3 separate regions of the Homo sapiens genome follow, and all the other regions are linked to region 2. The links come from fine-mapping of genetic effects on gene expression. A gene starts in region 2. Each other region holds a variant in brackets. All regions are shown on one strand. Distances are from middle to middle. Region 1 has its middle 89 kb from the start of DCD. Region 2 holds the start of TESPA1 (thymocyte expressed, positive selection associated 1). Region 3 overlaps TESPA1 (thymocyte expressed, positive selection associated 1).

Evidence for each region. PIP is the estimated chance that this variant, and not a neighbour inherited with it, causes the effect. A credible set is the group of variants that fine-mapping cannot tell apart.
Region 1: its variant is the best candidate, but not a certain one, in a credible set for the expression of TESPA1 in blood mononuclear cells (TOPMed, PIP 0.66).
Region 3: its variant is the best candidate, but not a certain one, in a credible set for the expression of TESPA1 in CD4 T cells (CEDAR, PIP 0.76).

What each region holds. Positions count from the first base shown.
Region 1 is chr12:54,732,715-54,741,176 of GRCh38, reverse strand. No RefSeq gene overlaps it. Among named protein-coding and RNA genes, the nearest start is that of DCD, 89 kb to the right of the region's middle. The variant A/C (reference allele first, on the strand shown) is at 4,432.
Region 2 is chr12:54,980,560-54,989,021 of GRCh38, reverse strand. It overlaps TESPA1 (thymocyte expressed, positive selection associated 1), which reads left to right and starts at 4,260. Exons shown (of 11, transcript NM_001136030.3): 1 at 4,260-4,437. LOC107984515 (a long non-coding RNA gene) reads right to left here and starts at 4,171. Exons shown (of 2, transcript XR_001749161.2): 1 at 4,057-4,171.
Region 3 is chr12:54,944,614-54,953,075 of GRCh38, reverse strand. TESPA1 (thymocyte expressed, positive selection associated 1) reads left to right here. Exons shown (of 11, transcript NM_001136030.3): 11 at 2,686-5,061. It also overlaps the pseudogene LOC105369778. Among named protein-coding and RNA genes, the nearest start is that of TESPA1, 36 kb to the left of the region's middle. The variant G/A (reference allele first, on the strand shown) is at 3,777.

The DNA.
Region 1 (8,462 bases), 250 kb after region 2:
ATAACCTATCAATCCTCTGCAATACAACAAAGACAGTGCTAAGAAGAAAGTACATAGCCCTAAATACCTACATTAAAAAGACTGAAAAAGTGCAAAATGACACTCTGAGGTTATACCTCAAGGAACAAGAGAAACAAGAACAAACCAAACCCAAACCCAGCAGAAGAAAGGAAATAACCAAGATAAGAGCAAAACTAAATGAAATTGAAACCAAAAAAATACAAAAGATAAATAAAACAAAAAGCTGGTTCTTTGAAAAGACAAATAAAATTGATAGACCAATAGCAAGATTAATAAAGAAAAGAAGAGAGAAATCCAAATAGCATCAATAAGAAACAAAACAGCAGATGTTACAACTGACACCACAGAAATACAAAAGGTTATTTAAGGCTACTATGAACACCTTTATGCACATAAACTAGAAAACCTAGAAGATATGGATAAATTTCTGAAAAAATACAACCCTCCTAGCTTAAATCAGGAAGAATTAGATACCCTGGACAGACCAAGAATAAGCAGCAAGATTGAAATGGTAATTTAAAATCACCAACAGAGAAAAGTCCAGGACCAGACAGATTCATAACAGAATTCTACCAGATATTCAAAGACCAATTGGTACCAATTCTTTTGACACTATTCCACAAGTTAGAAAAAGAGGGAACCTGCCTTAATTCATTCTATGAAGCTAGCATCAACCTAATACCAAAACCAGGAAATGACATAACCAAAAAAGAAAACTACAGACCGATATCCTTGATGAACATAAATGTTAAAATCCTTAACAAAATATTAGCTAATAGAATCCAACAACATATCAAAAAGATAATCCGCCATGATCAAGTGGCTTCATACCAGGGATGCAGGGATGATTTAACATATGCAAGTCAATAAATGTGATATACCACATAAGTAGAATTAAAAACAAAAATCACATGATCATCTCAATAGATGCAGAAAAGGCATTTGACAAAATCCAGCATCCCTTTTAATTAAAACTCTGAGCAAAATCAGCATACAAGGGGCATACCTCAATGTAATAAAAGCCATCTATGACAAACCCACAGCCAACATAATAGTGAATGGGAAAAGTTGAAAGCATTCCCTCTGAGAACTGGAACAAGACAAGGATGCCCACTCTCACTATTCCTCTTCACCATAGTACTGTAAGTCCTAGCCAGAGCAATCAGACAACAGAAAGAAATAAAGGGCATCCAATTAGTAAAGAGGAATTCAAACTGTCACTGTTCGCTGATGATATGATTGTTTACCTCGAAAACCCTAAAGACTCCTCCAGAAGGCTCCAAGAACTGATACAATAATTCAGCAAAATTTCTGGATACAAGATTAATGTACACTAATCAGTAGCTCTTCTATACACCAACAACGACCAAGCAGAGAATCAAATCAAGAACTCAACCCCTTTTACAATAGCTGCAAAAAAAATTAAAACAAATACTTAGTAATATACCTAACCGAGGAGTTGAAAGACCTCTACGAGGAAAACTACAAAACACTGCCGAAAGAAATCATAGATGACACAAACAAATGGAAACACAAACCATGCTCATGGATGGGTAGAATCAGTATTGTGAAAATGACCATACTACCAAAAGCAATCTACAAATTCAATGCAATCCCCATCAAAATGCCACCATCATTCTTCACAGAATTAGAAAAAAAAATTCTAAAATTCATATGAAACCAAAAAAGAGCCCACATAGCCAAAGCAAGACTAAGCAAAAAGAACAAATCTGGAGGCATCACACTGCCTGATTGCAAATTATATTATAAGGCCATAGTCACAAAAACAGCATGGTATTGGTATAAAAATAGGCACATAGAAAAATGGAACAGAATAGAGAATTCAGAAATAAACCCAAATACAGCTAACTGATCTTCAACAAAGCAAACAAAAACATAACGTGGGGAAAGGACACCCTTTTCAACAAATGGTGATGGGAAAATTGGCTAGCCACATGTAAGAGAATGAAACTGGATCCTCATCTCTCTCCTTATACAATAATCACCTCAAGATGGATTAAGGACTTAAATCTAAGACCCAAAACTATAAAAATTCTAGAAGATAACCTTGGTAAAACCCTTCTAGACATTGGCTTAGGCAAGGATTTCATGACCAAGAACCCAAAAGCAAATGCAATAAAAACAAAGATAAATAGCTGGGACTTAATTAAACCAAAGAGATTTTGCATGGCAAAAGGAACAGTCAGCAGAGTAAACAGACAACCCACAGAGTGGGAGAAAATCTTTACAATCTATACATCTGACAAAGGACTAATAACCAGAATCTACAATGAACTCAAACAAATCAGAAAGAAAAAAACAAACAATCCCATCAAAAAGTGGGCTAACGACATGAATAGACAGTTCTCAAAAAAAGATATACAAGTGGCCAACAAACATATTAAAAAAAGCTCAACATCACTAATGATCAGGGAAATGCAAATCAAAACCACAATGTGATACCACCTTACTCCTGCAAGACTGGCCATAATCAAAAAATCAAAAAACAGTAGATGTTGGAGTGGATGAGGTGATCAGGGAACACTTCTACACTGCTGGTGGGAATGTAAAATAGCACAACCACTATGGAAAACAGTGTGGAGATTCCTTAAAGAACTAAAAGTAGAACTACCATTTGATCCAGCAATCCCACTACTGGGTATCTAGCTAGAGGAAAAGAAGCCATTATACGGAAAAGATACTTGCACTTGCTTGTTTATAGTAGCACAATTCACAGTTGAGGAAATATGGAACCAGCCTAAATTCCCACCAGTCAATGAGTGGATAAAGAAACTGTGATAGATGATAGATAGATAGATAGATAGATAGATAGATAGATAGATAGATAGATAGATAGATAGATAGATAGATAGAATACTACTCAGCCATAAAAGGAATGAATTAATTGCATTCACAGTGACCTGGATGAGATTGGAGAGTATTATTCTAAGTGAAGTAACTCGGGAATGGAAAACCAAACATTGTATGTTCTCACTGTTATGTGGCAGATAAGCTATGAGGATGCAAAGGCATAAGAATGATACACTGGACTTTGGGGACTTGGGGGGAAGAGTAGGAGGAGAGTGAGGGATAAAAGACTACAAATAGGGTGCCATTCACTGCTTGGGTGATGGATGCATCAAAATCTCACAAATCACCACTAAAGAAATTACTCATATCACCAAACACCACCTGTACCCCAATAACCTATGGAAAAATAAAATTTTTAAAAAAAGAAAAAGAAAAAAATGATATCACACATTACTGCTGGGAGAATTAAGCACTATCCATTCAACTCCACCAGCAGAAGACAACTGAAAGCTCATTCTTGGTTTATCCTGGATTCTGCCTACGCACCTTTTCGTTTGCTGGTTTTAATCTGTTTTCTTTTCCTGTAATAAACTATAACTGTGTAACTATAACAGCCTTTCTGAATTCCGTGGGTCCTTCCAGAGAATCATCAAATCTAATGGTAGTCTTCGGGACCCCTGACACAGCAAGGATTAATGATGATTACAAAATCCACTCATTTATGTATAAAAATAGTTCTTAAGAACTTTTAAATCATTCAATAAATTGATTGTTGGTTAATACAAATATGAAAAGAGTACATTGGCTACTTGAATTTAGAAAGAATATTATATCCTTTTGAGCAAAAAGATAATATATTTTAAATAATAAAATTAAGAGGAAGACTAATCAAAATTAATATTTGTAGAATTGTTTAGTATACCAGCATGTTTGACATTAAGCAAAATAGTTTTTAATAATCATATTTTATTTTTATTTTATTATTTTAATTGCATCTAGGCCATGAGTCTTACATGAAAACAATCTTATTTGGAAATTCTTCACATCATATTATGTTGAATTAAAAGCAAAATGTCAACTTTCCCACCTTAATATTTCATGAAAAAGAAAAACAGCAAAATCATGTAAGTCACATTTCAAGTACTTGTCAGACACATCCACACTCATACACAAACAAGGTTTGTTTTTTCTAGTACCAATCCAGCCATAATAAAGAACACAAGCAGTAAGAATAAAACAGGAATGTGAACAAGGGACACTATATGAAGCATTGGAAAAACACATTGTGTTCTCATTAATCAAACTTCAAACCCACAGATTTTACAAGAATAATTTAAGAAGATGCTGCCTCAGTTCTCAGGCTATCAAAAACTTCAAACTAAAAGACTTTTTAAAATTATTACTAAGGGCTGGGCATGGTGGCTCATGCCTGTAATCCCAACACTGGGAGATCAAAGCAAGTGGATCACTGGAGCCTAGAAGTTCAAGACCAGCCTGGGCAACATGGCAAAAAAACATCTCTACCAAGAAATAGCTGGGTGTGGTGGTGCACATCTGTGGTCCCAGCTACTCAGGAAGCTGAGGTGGGAGGATCACTAG[A/C]GCCCAGGGAGGTTGAGGCTGCAGTGAACCATGATCACACCCCTGTACTCCAGCCAGCACAACAGAGTGAAACCCTGTCTCAAAAAAATAAAATAATATTATTACTGTTACACACGTCTGTGTGAAGAGACGGCCAAACAGGCTTTGTGTGAGCAATAAAGCTTTTTGATTCCCTGGGTGCAGGCAGACTGAGTCTGAAAAAGGAGTCAGCAAAGGGAGATGGGGTGGGCCAGTTTTATAGGATTTGGGTAGGTAGTGGAAAATTACAGTTAAAGGGGTTTTCTCTTGAGGGTAGGGGTGGGGGTCACAAGGTGCTCGGTGGGGAGCTCCTGAGACTCATTGTCCAGGAGAAGGAATGTCACAAGCTCAATTGATCAGTTAGGGTGGGACAGGAACAAATCACAGTGGTAGAATGTCATCAGTTAAGGCAGGAATTGACTATTTCACTTCTTTTGTGGTTCTTCAGTTGCTTCAGGTCATCTGGATGTATCCGTGCAGGTCACAGGGGTTATGATGGCTTAGCTTAGGCTCAGAGGCCTGACAATTACTATAGACTGAAAAACACTTTCAGATGTTGAAGAAAAGTTTGTAAGATTTTTCCAAGCCTATCAATCCTAGATACAAAGTTCTTTTTAGAAAATTTGTCACTGAGTTATATTTTATTGGTGCTAACAAGTATTTCACTTCAGTCTTTTGTACATCAGACACTTGTATAGCAAGGCAGGTTTGTGATAAATTCTTCTTGATCTTCTTCACTTGTGTATGGGCATTGGAGGAGCTTTCCCCTTGCCCTCAGAGGGTTTGCTGAAAAAAATCAATTTACAGTAAGGCAGATTAATAGGACAAAAAGCATACAAATTTATTTAACCATGTGCTCGAGAAGAATCATAGAGTGATTACCCAATTTCCCAACAGGGCCCAGACACTTCTATAACCTCTTTCAGAGGGGAGGGGGAAGATGGGGAATATAGAGGTAATTCTGGTTGAGGGGCATTAAATAATTACTAAGGAAAAATGAATAGGTACTTAGGAGAATGAATGGAAGGTGAGAACAGAAATTGACTTGTAAATGGTTTTCTTTGGAAGTTAAAAGAACCTGAGAGACAGGTATTATTTTGTAAAATGGTTGGTTCTGGTATGGTTATATTCTTCCTCTTCTTTCCTGAAATAGTGAGATAACAGGGAAGGGAAGAAAAGGCAATTGTTCTTGATGGGCCTATCTGATCTTTTTGAAGTTAGGGGATAAGTTTCTTCTGAGGCCTGTTGATTTATAAAGTCTTTTAATTCAAAATATACATTATACCAAGGAGCTTATTCATTCTCCCTGTCTGGAACTCCCCTAGAAGTTTCACACATAAAAAGCTGAGTTAGGCCGGGCGCGGTGGCTCATGCCTATAATCCCAGCACTTTGGGAGGCCAAGGTAGGTGGATCATGAGGTCAGGAGTTCAAGACCAGCCTGGCCAAGATGGTGAAACCCCGTCTCTACTAAAAATACAAAAATTAGCTGGGTATGGATTATAGGCGGGCACCTGTAATTCCAGCTACTTGGAAGGCTGAGGCAGAGAATTGCTTGAACCTGGGAGGCGGAAGTTGCAGTGAGCCAAGATCACACCACTGCACTCCAGCCTGGGTGACAGAGTGAGACTCTGTCTCAAAAAAAAAAAAAAAATCCTAAGTTAGTGGCTCTGGAGAGAGAAGTTGGTTTAGTAGCTGGGTAGTAAGAGATCTGAAAAGGAAGAAAAGAACATAGATTAAAATGAGAAAAGAACATATCTAAGCACACTTCCCCACACCCCATTAAACCAGTCTCCCATTCCCAGGAATAGGTCAGACCAATAGAACAGTTTAGCCTTGTTTACCTGATGGATAATATTTTACCTTGACCTTCAAGAGGTGCAGATCAGTCTCTACTTGCCCTGAGCGGTTTATGTAGAAACAGCATTTGTCACCAATAGCTGCACAAGCTCCTCCCTGTTGGGCTGTCAGCACATTCAGGCTGCAGCAGTTCTAAAGTACAGCAGAAGCTGGACTGTTGACTTCTGACTGGAGTGCTCCCAAGGCTTGGGTAGTGATACTGAAGTCTTGTTCTATTGCCATGGAAAGATTTTAAACTGCCCTTTCATTTTCTTAAGTTCCAAATGCCAGGGGAAAAGTTCTGAGGACTGAAAAGAACATAGATTTGTGATATATAGGTGGGTTTTTTACAAAGTCACATTCATTACCTCTGTGTGGCACCACTTTATGAACAAAAAGGCCCATTTGTAATTTGGCTGCCATTTAAAGTGGAGTACCTAGTAACAGAGGATGTCAGATAACTGAGTCCACAGCACCCTGAGTATCTAGGTGGGAACCACTTGTATATCTTGTTACCACGCAATATTAAAAGGCCGCTGTTATTTACAGATAGGGTCAGGGTGAAGCCTGTGGCGCCTCAGCCTGAAGTTTGCTGTGCCTTGTCTTCTTTGTTATTGGCATTTCCACATCTGCAGCTATCATGTCTCCCTGTCAATCTGTGGGAGCAAAACAGGTTGTGAAATATTTTATATAAAAGACCTTTAGTTTTGGCTGTTATAGGGCTTGGTTTTGTCACCTAGCCAAATCAGTCCAGACTTTGGGTCTATCCATATGTAATCTTTAGTATCTGACAGGTAAGCTACCCCAAGTTGCACACCAGGGCTGGCTTGTGAGCCATCCATAACATCTGGTGATTTGATAAATATTGATTTCATGAGTCAGCATCAGGACCACCTATGGTCTGTGTAAGAAGTGCAAGAATGCCATCTGTGGAATCAAACTATAAGGTCTGATTGCAATATTGCCTAGTATGTCACCTAGCAAGGGTCCAGCATCATTCCTGTTTTCAATGCAGAAGGAAAATTTTCTTTCTAGTAATTTTATCTAAGCAAAAGACAGTTTTGAGCTTCCATGGTGGCTTTTCTGTGTCCAGTTGACTTACCATAAGAGAGGCAATGTGACTTTGTTTCTCTGGTTCTGGATGCCATATCTTGTCATACATCCATCTTCTAGACTGAATCCACCAGGTGCTCATACTGGCAGAAACAAAAATAATTTCAGGTTCTTTTGCATCATCTAGATATTGGCATAACCAAAATTAGACTGACTAATGTTGTCAGGATTTAAAAGACTGGTGCAAAGGGTTTGTGCCCGACCGTCTAGAAAAATAGCAAGAATTAGTAAAAGCAAAGCACAGTTCAAAAGAAGAGTCACAGCGAAAGATCAAAGGGAGTATGAGAGAGATAAGTTCAGGCAATCTTTAATCACCTTTCAATTAAAAAGTCAAGAAACAATAGATGCTGGTGAGGCTGTGGAGAAATAGGAACGCTTTTACACTGTTGGTGGGAGTGTAAATTAGTTCAACCATTGTGGAAGACGGTGTGGCCATTCCTCAAGGATCTAGAACGAGAAATATCATTTGACCCAGCAATCCTATTATTGGGTATACACCCAAAGAAATATAAATCATTCTACTATAAAGAGACATGCACACGTATGTTTATTGTGGCACTATTTATAATAGTAAAGACACAGAACCCACCCAAATGCCGATTGATGATAGACTGGATAAAGAAAATGTGGCACATATACATCACGGAATACTATGCATCCATAAAAAGGAATGAGATCATGTCCTTTGCAGGGACATGGGTGGAGCTGGAAGCCATCATCCTCAGCAAACTAATACAGGAACAGAAAATCAAATACCACATGTTCTCACTCATAAATGGGAGTTGAAAGATGAGATCACATGGACACAGGGAGGGGAAAAACACATGCCGGGTCCTGTCGGGGGGTGGGGGACAAGGGGAGGGAGAGCATTAGGACAAATACCTAATGCATGCAGGGTTTAAAACCTAGATGATGGGTTGATAGGCGCAGCAAACCACCATGGCACATGTATACCTATGTAACAAACCTGCACGTTCTGCACATGTATCCCAGAACGTAAAGTAAAATTTTTAATAAAAATCCCCATGGTGTTCATTCAGCCCAAGAAGAGAAGGTTTAGAGG
Region 2 (8,462 bases):
ATCCTTAACAACCAGAACATAGAAGCAGAGAAAAGAACAAGATGACCTTGGTGGACACTTTTCTGCCTGGAGAAAGTTCAGAAAATCCTTGGTGAGTTAAATCACTGCTCTCTCCCCTACAATTCTATCCACTCTCTCTTTCTACTTTTGAGCCTTTGGTACAGGAAGGAGACAAAGTCACTCAAATTCCCACATCAGCAATTTGGAGGAACAGACTCTTAGCAAAAAAAACAAAACAGCCAAACAAAACAAAACAAAAATGGCATTTGCAAACCCCAGGATCTGAGAAAGAAGAAGGTTGAGAGCTGAAATGGAGGCAGATGATTTGCATCTGGGCCTGGGCAGAGGGGCCCAGCTGCTCGGCCCAGAGCAGTGGCTCTGAGCAGCAGCTTCTCTGTCTTGGGACAGCCTCTATGGACAGCTGTCCTGGCTCTGCCCCAGGTCTGGGCAACCTGCCAGCTCAGCCTGTAGTTCTGCAGCTCCAGAACTTATACTCACTACAGCCCATCTGTTTGATGGGCTCATCAGTGTTCAGAAATTGTTCTTATTTATCAGTGTTATCAGGTTACATGTCTAGAGGATAATATTATTCAAAAGCAATATTTACTTGGCTTTTCAATGGAAAAGAGTCTTTCAAAATACTTTTTCTAATACCTTTATAATAATTTCTTACCAAATATCACTTAATATTTTCATTTTCCATAATAAACTACATGCAGTTATAAAAGGGTAGAGAAAAATAGTCTGTACAGGTGTTACTGACATCTAAAGCCAAGAGGATCTTAGAAAATATTTCTCTGTCAGAAGGTGATACCGATATCCAGTGAAATTAAGTAACTAGTATAGTTTTAAACTCAGATTGCTCTTTTACCCCTAGTTCAGGGTTTTTACTAAATTCTATAAAACACAAGAGAGGGAGCCATGGAATGACAAATAGGCCCTATCATGAGGCACCAAACTGCTGAATCACATAGGCAGTAGAGAGCTAATTCATTATCTCAGTTAGCATAAGGGTTTTTATTTTTAACCAAGGGAAAAAAAATGAACAAGCTCACAAAAAAACCTTCAGAAACCCTGAACTACTGCGTCTCGTATAAAAAGAACAAGTCATTTTGTTTTCATGAAGCACCTGGAATATATGCTCAGAGAAGTTCATGGTGCCAAAGATATAGAGACAATGTTTTCAAAGGGTGGGAAGGGCAGGTGAGAGGGAAAAAAGAGAAAGGGGAAGGAGGAAAGGAGGGAAGGAAGGAAAGAAGGAAGGAAGGAAGGAAGGAAGGAAAAGGAATGGAAGGAAGGAAGGGAAAGAAGGAAAGAAACAAAGAAAGAAAGAGAAAGACTATACAACTGAGAAAGAAGATAAACAGAGGAATACCCTGGGCCGCCTCCTCCTCCTAGGAATCATATAGTCTTCATCTTTGTCTTTCAGAAGCTGCTTGTAGAAGAGAAAAATATTTCTTTCAAAAAATAAATCACAAATACTATAAACATATAAACCTACATATGTACTCATAAAAATTAAGAATAAATATAAATAAAAACCAAAAATTAATACATCTTTTTTATTAACAAAAAAATCTCTAGCAATTGCTTGTGAAATGGTATCTTTAATGAGTGAGGTAATTTTGACAGATAGACATAGTATTCTGCAGAAACTGAAAATATTATATTTCATGCAAATCAAAACCACAATGAGATACCATCTCACACTACTCAGAATGGCTATTATTAAAAAGTCAAAAAATAAAAGATGTTGGCGAGGTGGCAGAGGAAAAGGAATGTTTATACACTGTTGGCGGGAGTGTAAATTAGTTCAACCCTTGTGGAAGACAATGTGGCGATTGCTCAAAGACCTAAAAACAGAAATATCTTTAGACTCAGCAATCCCATTACCGAGTATATACCTGGAGGAATATAAATCATTCTGTTATAAAGACACGAGCACATGTATGTTTGCTGCAACACTATTCACAATAGCAAAGACATGGAATCAACCCAAATGCCCAGTGATGATAGACTGGATAAAGAAAATGTGGCACATATACACCATGGAATACTATGCAGCCATAAAAAAGAATGAGATCATGTCCTTTGCAGCAACATGGATGGAGCTGGAGGCCATTATCCTTAGCAAACTAACACAGGAACAGAAAACCAAATACCGCATGTTCTCACCTATAAGTGGGAGCTAAATGATGAGAACACATGGACACATAGAGGGAAACAACACACACTGGGGCCTATGGGAGGGTAGAGGGTGGAAGGAGGGAGAGGATCAAAACAAATACCTATTGGGTACTAGGCTTAATACCTGGGTGATGAAATAATCTGTACAACAAACCCCTATGACAGGAGTTTACCTATGTAACAAACTTGCACATGTACCACTGAACTTAAAATAAAAGTTAAAAGAAACTATTATATTTCAAGAGTCTTAAAAATAGCTGCAATTTCTTGAGCATTTGCTGTAAGGTAGGCGCTGGACTGAATACTCTGTATTCCTTTATTCTTATAGCTCTACAACCACTCCTGTAAGGTTATCCCCATTTAGCAGCTAACAAACTGAGACCTAGAGATGTTAACGTATCCAAGACTACAGAGCTACTTGATGCCAGAGCTTCACTCTAAAGCCTGCTCTCCTAACCATCAAACTATCAATGTTAACAAAATGTTGACATTTGGGCCAGGACAATTATTCCTTATACTGAAGAGTCCCATCCCTTCAAAAGCACTTATCATCATTGGCCCTCAGGTACTAAATACCAGTATCAGCTTCCCATTTCTTTGAAAATTAAATCTCTCTCACATATTTCCAAACTCCCTACCGAAGTTATATTCTCCATTTCCCAAACATATTGGAAAACAACTGTTAAGGAAAACATTGAATTCTAGAAACTTAGGATTTAAAAGAGTTGTTAAGTTTCCATTAGTTCAGCTTTTATAGTTAATTTGTACGGAAAAGAATAGTAAATAAAGAGAATTAGGGCGTGTTGGATTTAGCATTTTACTTGTTGACTGTGAAGCTAATTCTCAGAGAAGCACATATTTAGCATCTACTATGTCCTGAGAAAATATGTTAGATATTTTCATGCCTACGTAAAAGGAATAGCGTGGGAGAAGGGTTGAGTGAGAAACAGAGAGAATTGTTATTTTCCTCACATTATACTTGAAGAAAATAATGTTTTGAGAACTTAATTTGCCAAGCAAGAATTTTATTTAGGATTATTTCTACCATATTATAGCTATACTATGGATACTCAATGGAGTTGTCCCATTGATGATTGGAAATGGAATTTAGAAACATGGTAAAAAAAAAATCTAACTATACCTATAGCCAAAAAATCAGAAAGAAGGTAATGAACATGTGAAAATCAGTCACAATTAACACATTAGAGGAGTGCCTTGTAGAATAAATATTGTGATATACATTCATAAATAAATGATTTAAAGAAGGAAACAGTAGAATCAGGAGAGAGACAGAAAGAAGATATCCAAAATGCAGCAGCATCCTACGGAGAAGAGTGTTCAGAGATACTGGAGAAGCGAGGAGGGATAGTTAGCAGTGCTGGATGCTCCCGGTGGGTGAAAGTGATTGAGGCCTGGGAGAAACCTTTTAGAGTTCAACAAGCCTTTTCCAAACTGAAAACCAATAAACTGAAGACATCTTCAGGGTGTAACCGATTTTAAAAGTTCAGCTTTGAAAACGTTGGGGAAAGCAGTCATTTACTACAAAAACAAAAACTTTGAAGTGGTTTGAACATAAAACAAAGTTAAGAAACTAACAGAAAAAAAAAGTAGTCAGTATTCAAAAACAAGCTTCGGGGGAATTTACCAGAGTATGAAAGTTATCAACACAGAGCGACTGGCTCAGAGCCCTCTCAAGTGTGTGATACGACTGGAAACTTCTTCTCTGAGATAAACGCCAGATCATTTATGAGAGAGAGCTTTCCCATTTTCAGACAGCTCTCCTGAGGACAGAAGGATTTATCTGCAGCAGTGGAATTCTAGTTATATGGTAGGAAGACTCCTGCACACACCTCTTTAAATGGACTGTACCTTTGCCTTAATAGGAAAAGATCTCCTGTTTTTCTGGAAAGACAGAGGCAGCTCTGGGGCAGGAAGGTCTTCCTAGTTGTGAGCACCGTGTCTACGGATGGTTTGTCCTTCGCTCAGTCTCCTGAGCCGGAGCAAAGGATGTGGCTGGGCCAGGAGGCGGGGACTGCATCTACATGTGTGGATGTGTGTGTGTGTGGTGTGTTCTCATTTCCGCTTCCCCTTTTGAGCAGGCAACAGCAGTTGAATGAGTTCAGGGAGAAAGGCATAATCTACAACATGATACTTTCTCACTTGCTTCACCTCTGTGCCCACACCTGTGAAGGCCTCGGCCCAGCTTCGACAACTGCTTTGCCTCAAACTCAGCTTTCTACCAGCAGACAGGTAAGCACAGCCTTTATCTCAGTTTCAAGGCTGTACTGATTTAGGGTGATGCTAGGAGAAAGAAGGAAACATGTCAGAGAAAAATCAGGCTGTCAAGTCAAGGGAAAATCAAGAGAAAATCTCCCACCACTCTTACTTCAACCTTAAAAGCATCCATCATTATGCCTAGGAGAACGATGCTGGGTGCCCTTTTGCTTTCGTTTGTTTGTTTTCTCTTTATTATCAGAGAGGTAATCTTTCTAGATTCTCAAAACTTGGGTCTCTTTGATGACTTGAATAACATTTTAGGAATTTTTTTTCACCTTTCTCACCTGCAAAGTTCTTCTCTGTGTCTTGCTGAACTCATTGTTGCTGCAATTTCCATCTGATTATAACATCGAAAAGTTCTCAAGGAAGAAGTTTCCCGGTTTCATTTCAGGCCCTACTCTAGTGTCCATAGCTCCAACCATTGAGAGTACCTGGCTGAAATCAACTTTGCTTTCTGTGGGTATGACCTCTTTCTTCAGAAGCTGTAGAAGAAACTTGTTGAGATAAACTGCAGCAAGATATATTGAGGTCAGCTACGAGGGAGGATGTACACACTTGAGTGAGGTAAGGTCAAATTCACCGGGAGGCTCAAGATAGATGGATAGCCACCATCAGGACCAGATTTCAGGGTTCACATCTCAAAGATAGATAGATGGATGTGTTGCCTTCTCAGTGACCTACATAATATTGGGGGCTTCATGCTCCTCCAACACCCCTTGCCCCAGTGGTAGCAGGCAGAGCATATCACCACCTACATGAGTTTTGGGGTAGATGGAGGAGTGGAAAGATCCTCCACCCTGGGGTTTTCCCATGCCCCTTCTGTGCCACTAAGCTCACCAGTGGGTGGAAGAAAAAGGGTGGGTCCCCAGGGCAGGGCAAGGACAAGAAAGGAGAGTTCCACAGAAGTGATTTGACAAGACTGTGAGCATTTACAGGAGATATCCAGGGAAGTACTAGTGACTCTGTATACCACAAATGGTCCTGAGTAGAGAGGTAAGGAGACTTTCTAGATGGTGCAGGGCAGTACCTAGGATGGGAGGTTGGAGGTAGGAACCTTCAACTTGTGTGTCCAAGTATCAGACTCAATAGTTGTTCAGCTGAGTGATTAGAGATAAAGATCTCACAATATTGTCTTGCAGCATGAAGTGTTAGTAGGAAGAAGGGAAGTCAGGTTTATTGTCTGTCTCTACTTGGACTATTATCAGAAATAACAAGCTGAAGATATAGCAGAAGGGATAGAAAGCAATTTAACATCTGAGTTATTCGCATGCACCCCAGGGTGTTTAGAAACCATTTACAACCACGCTACCAACATGTTCTCATAACTCTTGGGTTTTTTGAAAATTAAGATGGAACCCTGCGATTCAGCATTATGTAGTGAACATGAAGCCCCAACCGTCATTTTCAGTTCAATGTTTGATTTGGATTCTAGTATGGAGGTCTCGTCTCAGCCAATGCTGTGACTTACAAGATTCCTTCTGGGCTACAGTAAGGGGAAAAGATCACACGTTTATTTCCACCTGCAAACTGACAACTGTTCTCTTTTCCACCTAAGGCACAAGACCAAAGTGGATATTCCAGTACCCACAGTACTGTGTGCCTTACAACACCCAGGCCTGATGCAGAATGGCCTAAACACAGATTTCAGATTGAGAAAAGAGTTCAGTCAAATAAGTAGAGGGACGAGGAGAAGAGAGTGTGTAGATATTGAAAAAGAAAAGCAGGAAAGAAGAAAAATGAATATATGCAGGACAGAGCTTATTACCAAGGAAATGAAACTGAAGAATTAAAGATACGAATTCACAGAGCTAACACAATGGTTGAGAAATCTGCTCATTCTCCCTACTTTCTCTTGATGAAGCCATCTATAAATCAGCTCAGATAAACTGCTGTTTCTTATTCTTGATGTCTTTATTGCCCATTCAAATGAAGATATTTGATGTCTCCCTACATTGAGAACAAGCGATTAATTTTTTTTCCAAATCCACAACTTTAATATTTCCTGTAGCAATTATACAAGCCTTTCTTAAAATTCATATCCTAAAAGTGGAAGTAAGGAAGAAAGGGAAGGAGAGGAAAAAGGTCTTAGATGGTCTTCTTTCAGTATTTATTCAGCTACGCTTATTTGTGGGAGAAAGAGTATGAAAAGGGAGGGGAATAGGAGTTCTATTGACTAATGGGCATTTTTTCTTTCTGTTATTTACCAAGTAACATCTCTCCTTTTCCCCGAACAGATTGAACTGCTCCTTAGACAATAGAAGTCTCAGAATGCTCAAATATTATACTCAGGGAAATTCTTGTTCTGATGATCTTCCAACCTGAGTGACATGGAAGAGGGTTAGGAGCTAGAAGACAGTTCTATGAAGGAATGTGAGAATTTGTTGCAGATTGGGGTATGTCAAATGGGGGACAATCCACCTGGGTTGAGGTGGAGTTTGTCCAGTTCATGAACAGAGAAATGTTAGCTACTCTGGGATTTCCCGCAGCTCTGCGATGGTAATGATGTATATCTTGGCTGTGGATGCAGAAGGTCTTATGGGCCACATCATGGAAACCCCATTTCCTTCTTCTCTCCTCCCACACTGGTTCTCACTCTCAGTCTCAACTCACAGGCACTGCTTGGGGCATAGGTACAAAACAGACAGAAGAGAAGAGAGGTCTGTCTCATACATGTCCCCTAGAGCACTAAAGGCAAACCTGGGACTGGGCCTTGGAAACCAAGTGTGGCAGGAGGAAGGCTGTATGATATAAAGGAAGAAAGCATGCATCTGGAACTCAGAACTTGTGAGTTTGGTTCCCATTTAAAACCACTAATATTCTTTGTGACTCCAGGCAAGCCTGCTTCTCCCTCCCTCTCTCTCTCTCTTTCTCCCTCCTTTCTCTCTCTCTTCAGTTTCCTCAACTACAAAATGAGTGAACAGGATTAGGTAATCTCTCTGGTCCCTTTGGGAATTAGGTAAGAAAGAAAGACTTTTTTTTTTTAATATATTATACTTTAAGTTCTAGGGTACACGTGCACAATGTGCAGGTTTGTTACATATGTATACATGTGCCATGTTGGTGTGCTGCACCCGTTAACTCGTCAGTTACATTAGGTACATCTCCTAATGCTATCTCTCCCCCCTCCCCCCACCCTAGGACAGGCCCCAGGAAAGAAAGACTTTTCATTGCTTACTTTTTATCTCTGCTTAACACAGATTTAAAAAATCTTTTTCACCATCTTGATTTTATACTGTCAACTGTACCCTGCAATTCTCACCTTCTTCCTTCCTTCTTTCCTTCCTTATTCCTCAAGATGTTTCAACTTTAGTGAACATCTTAGACTGAGGGGAGATTCATAATCATAATCATATCTATCACTTATTAAGCACCACCTTTATACATCAGGGACTTAATATGTGTTACCTGATTACAACTGCCAATCACCCAACTAGTTTGGCACAGTATCTATTTTATGAAGAAAATTAGGTATAGACTAGGTGTGGTGGCTCACACCTATAATCCCAGCACTTTGGGAGGCCAAGGTGGGAGGATTGCTTGAGGCCAGGTGTTCAAGACCAGCCTGAGTAACACAGCAAGACAAAAGAAAAAGAAAAAGAAGAAACTTAGGTATAGAAGAAAAGATAGTGTTACCAAGGACAAATATGCAGAAAGCAGACAGAACTATGATTCCAAATTAGGCTTACTCTGATTCCAAGGCCCAAACTCTTTCTACAGTTTTCCTTTTCTTTAATTTCTAAATAACACTCTGAACTTTAAAGAAAAAGAAGCATTGGTCATCCTTACTGAGCCCCTTGAAAATTGCCCCATGGTGAAGTATCTGTAAGCAGAGCTGATATTTGTCAGGTGCAAACTGGTAGGCTAATAGTTGCTAAAATATTAAAATATGTCTACTAATGATAATTATCCACTTTCCCAAGCCCTCTGAGTGCCCATGACCAGCCCAGCTATCCCAGCTCTTTCCTCAAGACTCCCCAGACAGGCCCCAGAAATTCAAG
Region 3 (8,462 bases), 36 kb after region 2:
GAAACCTAGGGAGAAATGTGATGATCAGAAACAAGCTGAAGGCAGTGGGAATAGAGGGGAGGACGAGTGAGATTTTGAGATATTCAGGAGGTAAAATATCTAAGCCAGGACCGATTAGACTTGTGTTTGGGGAAGAAAAATGGAATAAGGAACAGAAAGAAAGATAGGGCATACAGGTTTCCTCTTGGGCAACTAAATGGATGTAAATATCATTTTATTAAGAATGAAGTAAAAATAGGAATAACAATTTGGAAGGCAAATATATTAAAGTATAATTTTCAAAAAGGTAAAATAATGACTCTCATGCAAATGTAGATAAACATGTTCAAAGACTTTACTCAATTCATTAATTACTGAAGGCACCAGCAATATGCTTGACCTGGTCCAAAGACTATTTGAGAAGTCAGTTTATACAGAGAGAGAATTTAACAGATTGCCATATTAGATACAAAACTGGTTAATATCCAATAACAGCATAAACTTTATCTCTGGGATTACTGGTTCCACTGGATGGAAATTATTTGCATCTCTACCCAACATAAATCACTAAGGTAATCTCTGCTCTTGCAAAACTATAAAATAGCAGTGTAAATAGAAAGTCAAGATTAACACTGTACTGAAAGAGTATCTAGTCATCTTGTTTGACTATTTAGAAAAAGCTGATGAGTTCATATCTGAACATGGTGAGTGTAAGGTACTTCTAAAATACTGTGATAAAGAGGTTCATGTCTTCATTGGTTTCTGTTGCTATAATAGAACATTACAAACTAGGTATTTTACTTTATAAAAGAAATTTATTTACTACAGTTCTGGGAGCTGGGAAGTCCAAGGTTGAGGGACCACATCCGGTGAGGGCCTCCTTTCTGCATCATAACATGGCAGAGGATATCACATGGTAAAAAAGCAAGAGCATGCCATCTCAGGTCTCCCTTCCTCTTCTTATATAGCCAAGATTCCCATCATGGGGCCTCACCCTGATGAGTTTATCTAATCCTAATTTTTTCCCTAAGACCTCACCTCTTGATACTATCACGATGGCAATTAAATTCCAACATGAATTTTGGAGGGCAAACTCAAACAACAGTCCATAAGGCAGTTTGGATAAAGGAATCTAGGAATTGAGCTTTTTGGAGTTCAAGGCTTACTTATAATAGGTGACGGCATGAGGAAAGATAGTTCACCCAAGAAAGTATGCAGAATCAGAATCTGAAGTAAAAAAAAAAAAACAACTTAGAAATATTAATATTTAAAGTTTTATCAAGGAACAACGTATATAAAGGAGCAATATTGATTAGAAAAAGGTTGCAAATAGAAACCAAGTGATGTTTCTCTCAAGAAGGAGGGTGTAGTCTTCAGTAACATTTACCATAAAATATCCAATAGGAAGGAAAATGCAAAGATACCATTGTATTTGTGACTAGATAACAATTACTAACCTTGATAAGAATATTTTTATTTGGGTGACAAGGCTTTAAAATATTAATATGAAAAGTGAATAAGAAATGTTGAAAAGAAAGTAGGTAAATAATTTTTTTCTAGGATGGTGAAAGTTTAAGCATACAGTAAATATTTCCCTGGAAGGAAAGAATCAATAGAATGGGAAAGGCTATGGTTTAGGAGGGAAGGAATTGTATGAGTCTCTTCTCACATTGCTGTAAGGACCTAGCTGAGAGTGGGTAAAGAAAAGAGGTTTAATTGGCTCATGGTTCCACAGGCTGTGCAGGAGGCATGGCTAGGGAGACCTCAGGAACTTTCATTCATGGCAGAAGGGGAAGGGGAAGCAAGCACATATTCACATGGTCAGCAGGAGAGAGAGAGAAGGGGGAAGAGCTACACACTTTTAAACAACCAGATCTCATGAGAATTCACTCGCTGTCATGAGAACAGCAAGGGGGAAATCTGCTTCTGTGATCCAATCACCTCCCATGAGGCCCCACCTCCAACATTCAGGATCACAATTCAACATGATATTTGGGTGGGGACACAGAGCCAAACTATATCAGGGATGTTAATGGTGTGAAGTCACTGAGAACTGGGATGAGATGAGATTCAAGGCACTTTTGGAGGGTGTAGCTAGCCATAAAGTAGTGTGACAGATATTTCTCTGAGATTAAAGGGAAAAAAAAATGGAAAAAAATTTTAAGTGTCAATATGGTTATATTGGTCATCTGGAGAGGAAGTCAAGAAAAATTCTGCCTATTTCTTTCTCTCTTTTTCCTGTGGGGTCATTACTAAAAAGTGTGAGTCAGGAAAGGAATGGTAAAAATTTGAGAATTCTACTATGTAGAAAAAACAAGAGAAATACTTATTAATAGAAAATGCATTGCTAGTTGAATAGGTGAATAATGTTAGGCTCATTTCAAGGTGCAGAACATGAATTGATAGTGGTTTAGTGATATTCTCCAACAGTGTTCAGCAATCCATACAAAAAAATAAAGGTATAAATGTATGCCTTTATAAGTATTAAACAGTAAGAGGTAAACTCTTGCAGGAATCTCACCTCATGATGAAAAGAGCAGAAACCCCAAGTCACATGACTCTTTGCTGCTGCTGCTAATAACTTTAAATGTCACTTATAATACTGAGAAACATTTCCACAGCTGAGGTATGAAAGTTCCTACCAACCTCAGTACCCAAAGTTGTTTAAAAAATGCATGATATGTATCTTTTTTATTCCCATTGCAGGCTTTCTCCACCACCACAACAGCATGTGGTCTGACAGAATTGGCTTCAAAGAAGAAACTAAAAGCCACCTCTTGCAGGAAACTGCACTGCCCTCAACATCCAGCCCCTACTCCTTGGTCCTCCAAACCCCCAAACTCTGCAGGAGAAAGGCAGCATGGTACATGGGGAGGAAGACCAGACTGAGCGATTTGGAATCCACATCCTAATGCTGCCACAAGCTGCATGCACAAAGACCTTAGGCACATCTCTTCATTTCTCTGTACACTGGTTTCTCTACTATGTGTGTATTAAAATATATAATGTGGATGATAGTAAACTGAACAAAGCCTTAATTTTCTCCCAAGCTTTGACATTGCCAAGGGCAGTTAGGAGACTTCAGGATCAAGTTTAGGGGACAAGTTTTTTTCTAATACTTTCAAAAGGCCCAAGTGAAGAGAGGAAGGACACCTCACTTTCTGGCTCTAAAAGCATGGTACATCTCACACTAGGATTCCCTCTGCACCTCTGTTCATCCCTGTATTCCTAACTAAATTCCAGAAAATCTTCTACAACACTGGAGTCCTATTTTTCTTCTTGAGACCTCCTTTGAAGAAATCAACTTGGAGACTCCTCCTTAAATCCAGTTTCTTTCTCTACCCAAAATTTTGCATCTTTATAGAAAAAGAGATAAGTAGGATTCAGAGTCTCTTCTCCTAGCCATTGTGGGGGGAAAAAATGCTATTTCTGTTGGCAGAAAACAATACAAATATTTTTTTTAAATCATGGCATGTTTTTAAAGTTAACTAACAGCTGTAGTTTGCTTTGGAAGTTAAATGTTTTGTCAATAAACAGGGCTTGAGCACATGCAGTGCTCTCTTAGGCAGTATGTGGTTTCAGAGCATCTTGGACACATTTCTCCCCTGAGAAAATATTAATATTAATAGAATGGGAGAAGTAAGATGCACGCATTTCCAGAAGTATATTATTTGGCTGCCTAATAAATTGTGAGACAAAAGAAAAAAAAAAAAAAAACAGGAAGAGAGGGACTTGAGGGAATTTGAGGGAAATCATAACCAAAAGTTTAAAGGAAAAAATTACACCAGACATGATAA[G/A]CAGAAGTTGATTTTGTTCTGGTGCTATTGCCAGCATTAGGGGAGAAGGCACAAACTGAGTCTGATACGTAGTGAGGCAGAGACAAAAGGGCTAGGGTGGAAAAATTTTTAAACCATCTGTGTTTACTAATTCCCCATACCAAAAGAACAAAATGAACTTTCTCCTATTTCATGATAAAAGATAGTTTCACAATTTGGAAAAAGCCCCCCCACTCCAAGTTTCCTACCCTTCCCACCCACAGAAACCAGGAGACAGGGGAACTATCTTCCTTGATGTTAACATTTCAAAGAGGTGGTTCTCAGGTCCTAGAGAAAGATATTCCTGAGTTGTAAAACTGGGAAGAGGCTGGAAGAAGATTTAGATCTCAAGAAATAGAAAGAACTACAGCAAATTTTCTAAAGCAAATATTCTTAAGGGAGGTCAAGGGCCTGAAGTCAGGAAGAAACCTATTTGGTCAAGCTGAGGGGAAAGTTAAGGCTATCTTGTCACAAGAGAACAGAAATATCTGACAATATTTCATTTAAAGAACTGTATTAGTCCATTCTCACACTGCTATAAATAAATACCTGAGACTGGGTAATTTATACAGAAAAGAGGTTTAATTGGCTCACAGTTCCGCAGGCTGTACAGGAAGCATGGCAACATCAGTTTCTGGGGAGGCCTCAGGGAGCTTTAACTCATGGTGGAAAGCAAAGTGGGAGCAGGCATCTTACATGGTATGAGCAGGAGGAACAAAGGAAAGGGGAGGTGCTAACACTTTTAAATGACCAGATCTTGTAAGAACTCACTCATTATACAGTACCAAGGGGAGATGGTGCTAAACGATTAATGAAAACTCTACCCAGTAATCCAATCACCACCCACCAGGCCCCACCTCCAACAATGGGGATTACAGTTTGACATGAGATTTGGGTGAGGACACAGATCCAAACTGTCAGGCCTCTGAGCCCAAGCTAAGCCATCATATCCCCTGTGACCTGCATGTATACATCCAGATGGCCTGAAGCAAGTGGAGAATCACAAAAGAAGTGAAAATGGCCTGTTGCTGCCTTAACAGATGACATTACTTTGTGAAATTCCTTCTTCTGGCTCAGAAGCTCCCCCACTGAGCACCTTGTGACCCCCACCCCTGCCTGCCAGAGAATAATCCCCTTTGACTGTAATTTTCCACTACCTACCTAAATCCTATAAAACAGCCCCACCCCTATCTCCCTTTGCTGACTCTCTTTTTGGACTCAGCCTGCCTGCACCCAGGTGATTAAAAAGCTTTATTGCTCACACAAAGCCTGTTTGGTTGTCTCTTCACACGGACGCCCGTGACATTTGGTGCTGTGACTTCGATCGGGGGACTTCCCTGGGGAGATCAATCCCCTGTCCTCCTGCTCTTTACTCCATGAGAAAGATCCACCTACGACCTCTGGTCCTCCGATGAACCAGCCCAAGGAACATCTCACCAATTTTAAATTGGGTAAGCGGCCTCCTTTTACTGCCTTCTCCAACCTCTCTCACTATCCCTCAACCTCTTTCTCCTTTCAATCTTGGCACCATCCTTCACTCTCTCCCTTCTCTTAATTTCAGTTCCTTTCCTTTTCTGGTAGAGACAGAGGAGATGTGTTTTATCCATGAACCCAAAACTCCGGTGCCGGTCAGGGACTTGGGAAGACAGATTTCCCTTGGTGTTTAATCACTGCAGGGACACCTGCTTGATTATTCACCCACGTTTCAGAGATGCCTGATCACCGCAGGGATGCCTGCCTTGATCCTTCACCCTTAGTGACAAACACCAGTTTCCTAGGGTGCAAACACCCCCCCACCCCTTCTCTCCGTGTCTCTACCCTCTCTTTTCTCTGGGCTTGCCTCCTTCACTATAGGCAACCTTCCACCCTCCATTCCTCCTTCTTCTCCCTTAGCCTGTGTTCTCAAGAACTTAAAACCTCTTCAACTCACACCTGACCTGAAACCTAAATGCCTTATTTTCTTCTGCAATGCTGCTTAACCCCAATACAAACTCAACAATGGTTCCAAATAGCCAGAAAAAGGCACTTTCAATTTTTCCATCCTACAAGATCTAGATAATTCTTGTCGTACAATGGGCAAACGGTCTGAGGTGCCTGAGGTCCATGCATTCTTTTACACATGGGTCCCTCTCTAGTCTCTTTTCCCAATGTGACTCATCCCAAATCCTCCTTCTTTCCCTTCCACCCTTCCCCTCAGTCCTAACCCCAAGCATCACTGAGTCTTTTCAATATTCCTTTTCTACAGACCCATCTGACCTCTCCCCTCATCCCCAGACTGCTCCTCCTCAGGTCGCTCCCCACCAGGCTGAATCAGGCTCCAATTCTTCCTCAGGCTCTGCTCCCCCACCCTATAATCCTTCTATCACCTCCCCTTCTCACACCCAGTCCGACTTACAGTTTCTTTCCCCGACTAGCCCCCGCCACCTGCCCAGCAATTTCCTCTTAAATCGGTGGCTGGAGCTAAAGGCATAGTCAAGGTTAATGCTCCTTTTTCTTTATCCGACCTCTCCCAAATCAGTTAGTGTTTAGGCTCTTTTTCATCAAATGTAAAAACCCACCCCAGTTCATGACTTATTTGGCAGCAACTCTGAGACGCTTCACAGCCCTAGACCCTGAAAGGTCAGAAGGCTGTCTTATTCTCAATATGCATTTTATTACGCAATTCATTCCCAACATTAAATAAAGCTCCAAAAATTAGATTTTGGCCCTTAAACCCCACACAGGTCTTAATTAACCTTGTCTTCAAGGTGTACAATAATACAGAAGAGTTGCAATTACTTGCCGCTGCTGTGAGAGAAACTCCAGCCACATCTCCAGCACACAAGAACTTCAAAACGCCTAAGCCACAGCAGTCAGGCATTTCTTCAGGACCTCCTCCCCCAGTATCTTGTTTCAAGTGCTGGAAATCTGGCCACTAGGCCAAGGAATGCCCACAGCCTGGGATTCCTCCTAAGCTGTGTCCCATATGTGCAGGACCCCACTGGAAATCGGACTGTCCAACTCACCTGGCAGCCACTCCCAGAGCCCCTGGAACTCTGGCCCAAGGCTCTCTGACTGACTCCTTCCCAGATCTTCTTGGCTCAGTGGCTGAAGACTGACACTGCCCACTTGCCTCAGAAGCCTTCTGGACCATCACAGATGCTTTCGGTAACTCTTACAGTGGAGGGTAAGTCCTTCCTCTTCTTAATCAATATGGAGACAACCCACTGCACATTACCTGCTTTTAAAGGGCCTGTTTCCTTTGCCTCCATAACTGTTGTGCGTATTGACAGCCAGGCTTCTAAACCTCTCAAAACTCCCCAACTCTGGTGCCAACTTGGACAATATTCTTTTATGCACTCCTTTTTAGTTATCTCCACCTGCCCAGCTCCCTTATTAGGCCAAGACATTTTAACTAGATTATCTGCTTCCCTGACTAGGCTACAGCCACACCTCATTGCCACCCTTTTCCCCAGTTCAAAGCCTCCTTCAAATCCTCCCCTTGTATCTCCCTACCTTAATCCACAGGTATGGGACACCTCTACTCCCTCCCTGGCAACTGGTCACATACCCATTACTATCCCATTAAAACCTAATAACCCTTATCCCACTCAATGCCAATACCCCATCCCACAGCAAACTTTAAAAGGATTAAAGTTTGTTATCACTTGCCTGTTACAGCATGCCCTTTTAAAGCCTATAAACCCTCTTTACAATTCCCCCATTTTACCTGTCCAGAAACTGGACAAGTCTTACAGGTTACGTCAGGATCTGTGCCTTATCAACCAAATTGTTTTGCGTATCCACCCTGTGGTGTGAAACCTCATATACTCTCCTATCCTCAATACCTCCCTCCACAACCCATTATTCTGTTCTAGGTAAACCTAGCTGACCCCATAGATCCTAAATCCTTTCTCCACTCCCCTATCCATTCCTTAAAAAACAGCTCCCACACTAGCTCTCCCTAACTTATCACTCCCTTTCCACTACACACAGCTGAAGTGCAGGGCTGTGCAGTTGGAGTTCTTACACAAGAGCTGGGACCACGCCCTTTAGCCTTTCTGTCCAAACAACTTGACGTTACTGTTTTAGCCTAGCCCTCATGTCTGCATGTGGCAGGTACCACTGCTTTAATACTTTTAGAGGTCCTCAAAATCACAAACTATGCTCAACTCACTCTCTGCAGTTGTCATAACTTCCAAAATCTATTTTCTTCCTCACATCTGATGCATATACTTTCTTCCCCCCTCCACTACCTCTCAGCAAGCCGAACTCATTGCCTTAACTTGAGCCCTCACTCTTGCAAAAGGAGTACACATCAATATTTATACTGACTCTAAATATGCCGTCCATATCCTGAACCACCATGCTGTTATATGGGCAAAAAGAGGTTTCTTCACTACACAAGGGTCCTCCATCATTAATGCCTCTTTAACAAATAGTCTTCTCAAGGCCGCTATACTTCCAAAGGAAGCTGGAGTCATTCACTGCAAGGGCCATCAAAAGGCATCAGATCCCATCACTCAGGGCAACACTTATGCTGATAAGATAGCTAAAGAAGCAGCTAGCATTCCAATTTCTCTCCCTAACTGCCAGTTTTTCTCCTTCTCATCGGTCACTCCCACCTACTCCCCCACTGAAACTTCCACCTATCAATCTCTTCCCACACAAGGAAAATGGTCCTTAGAC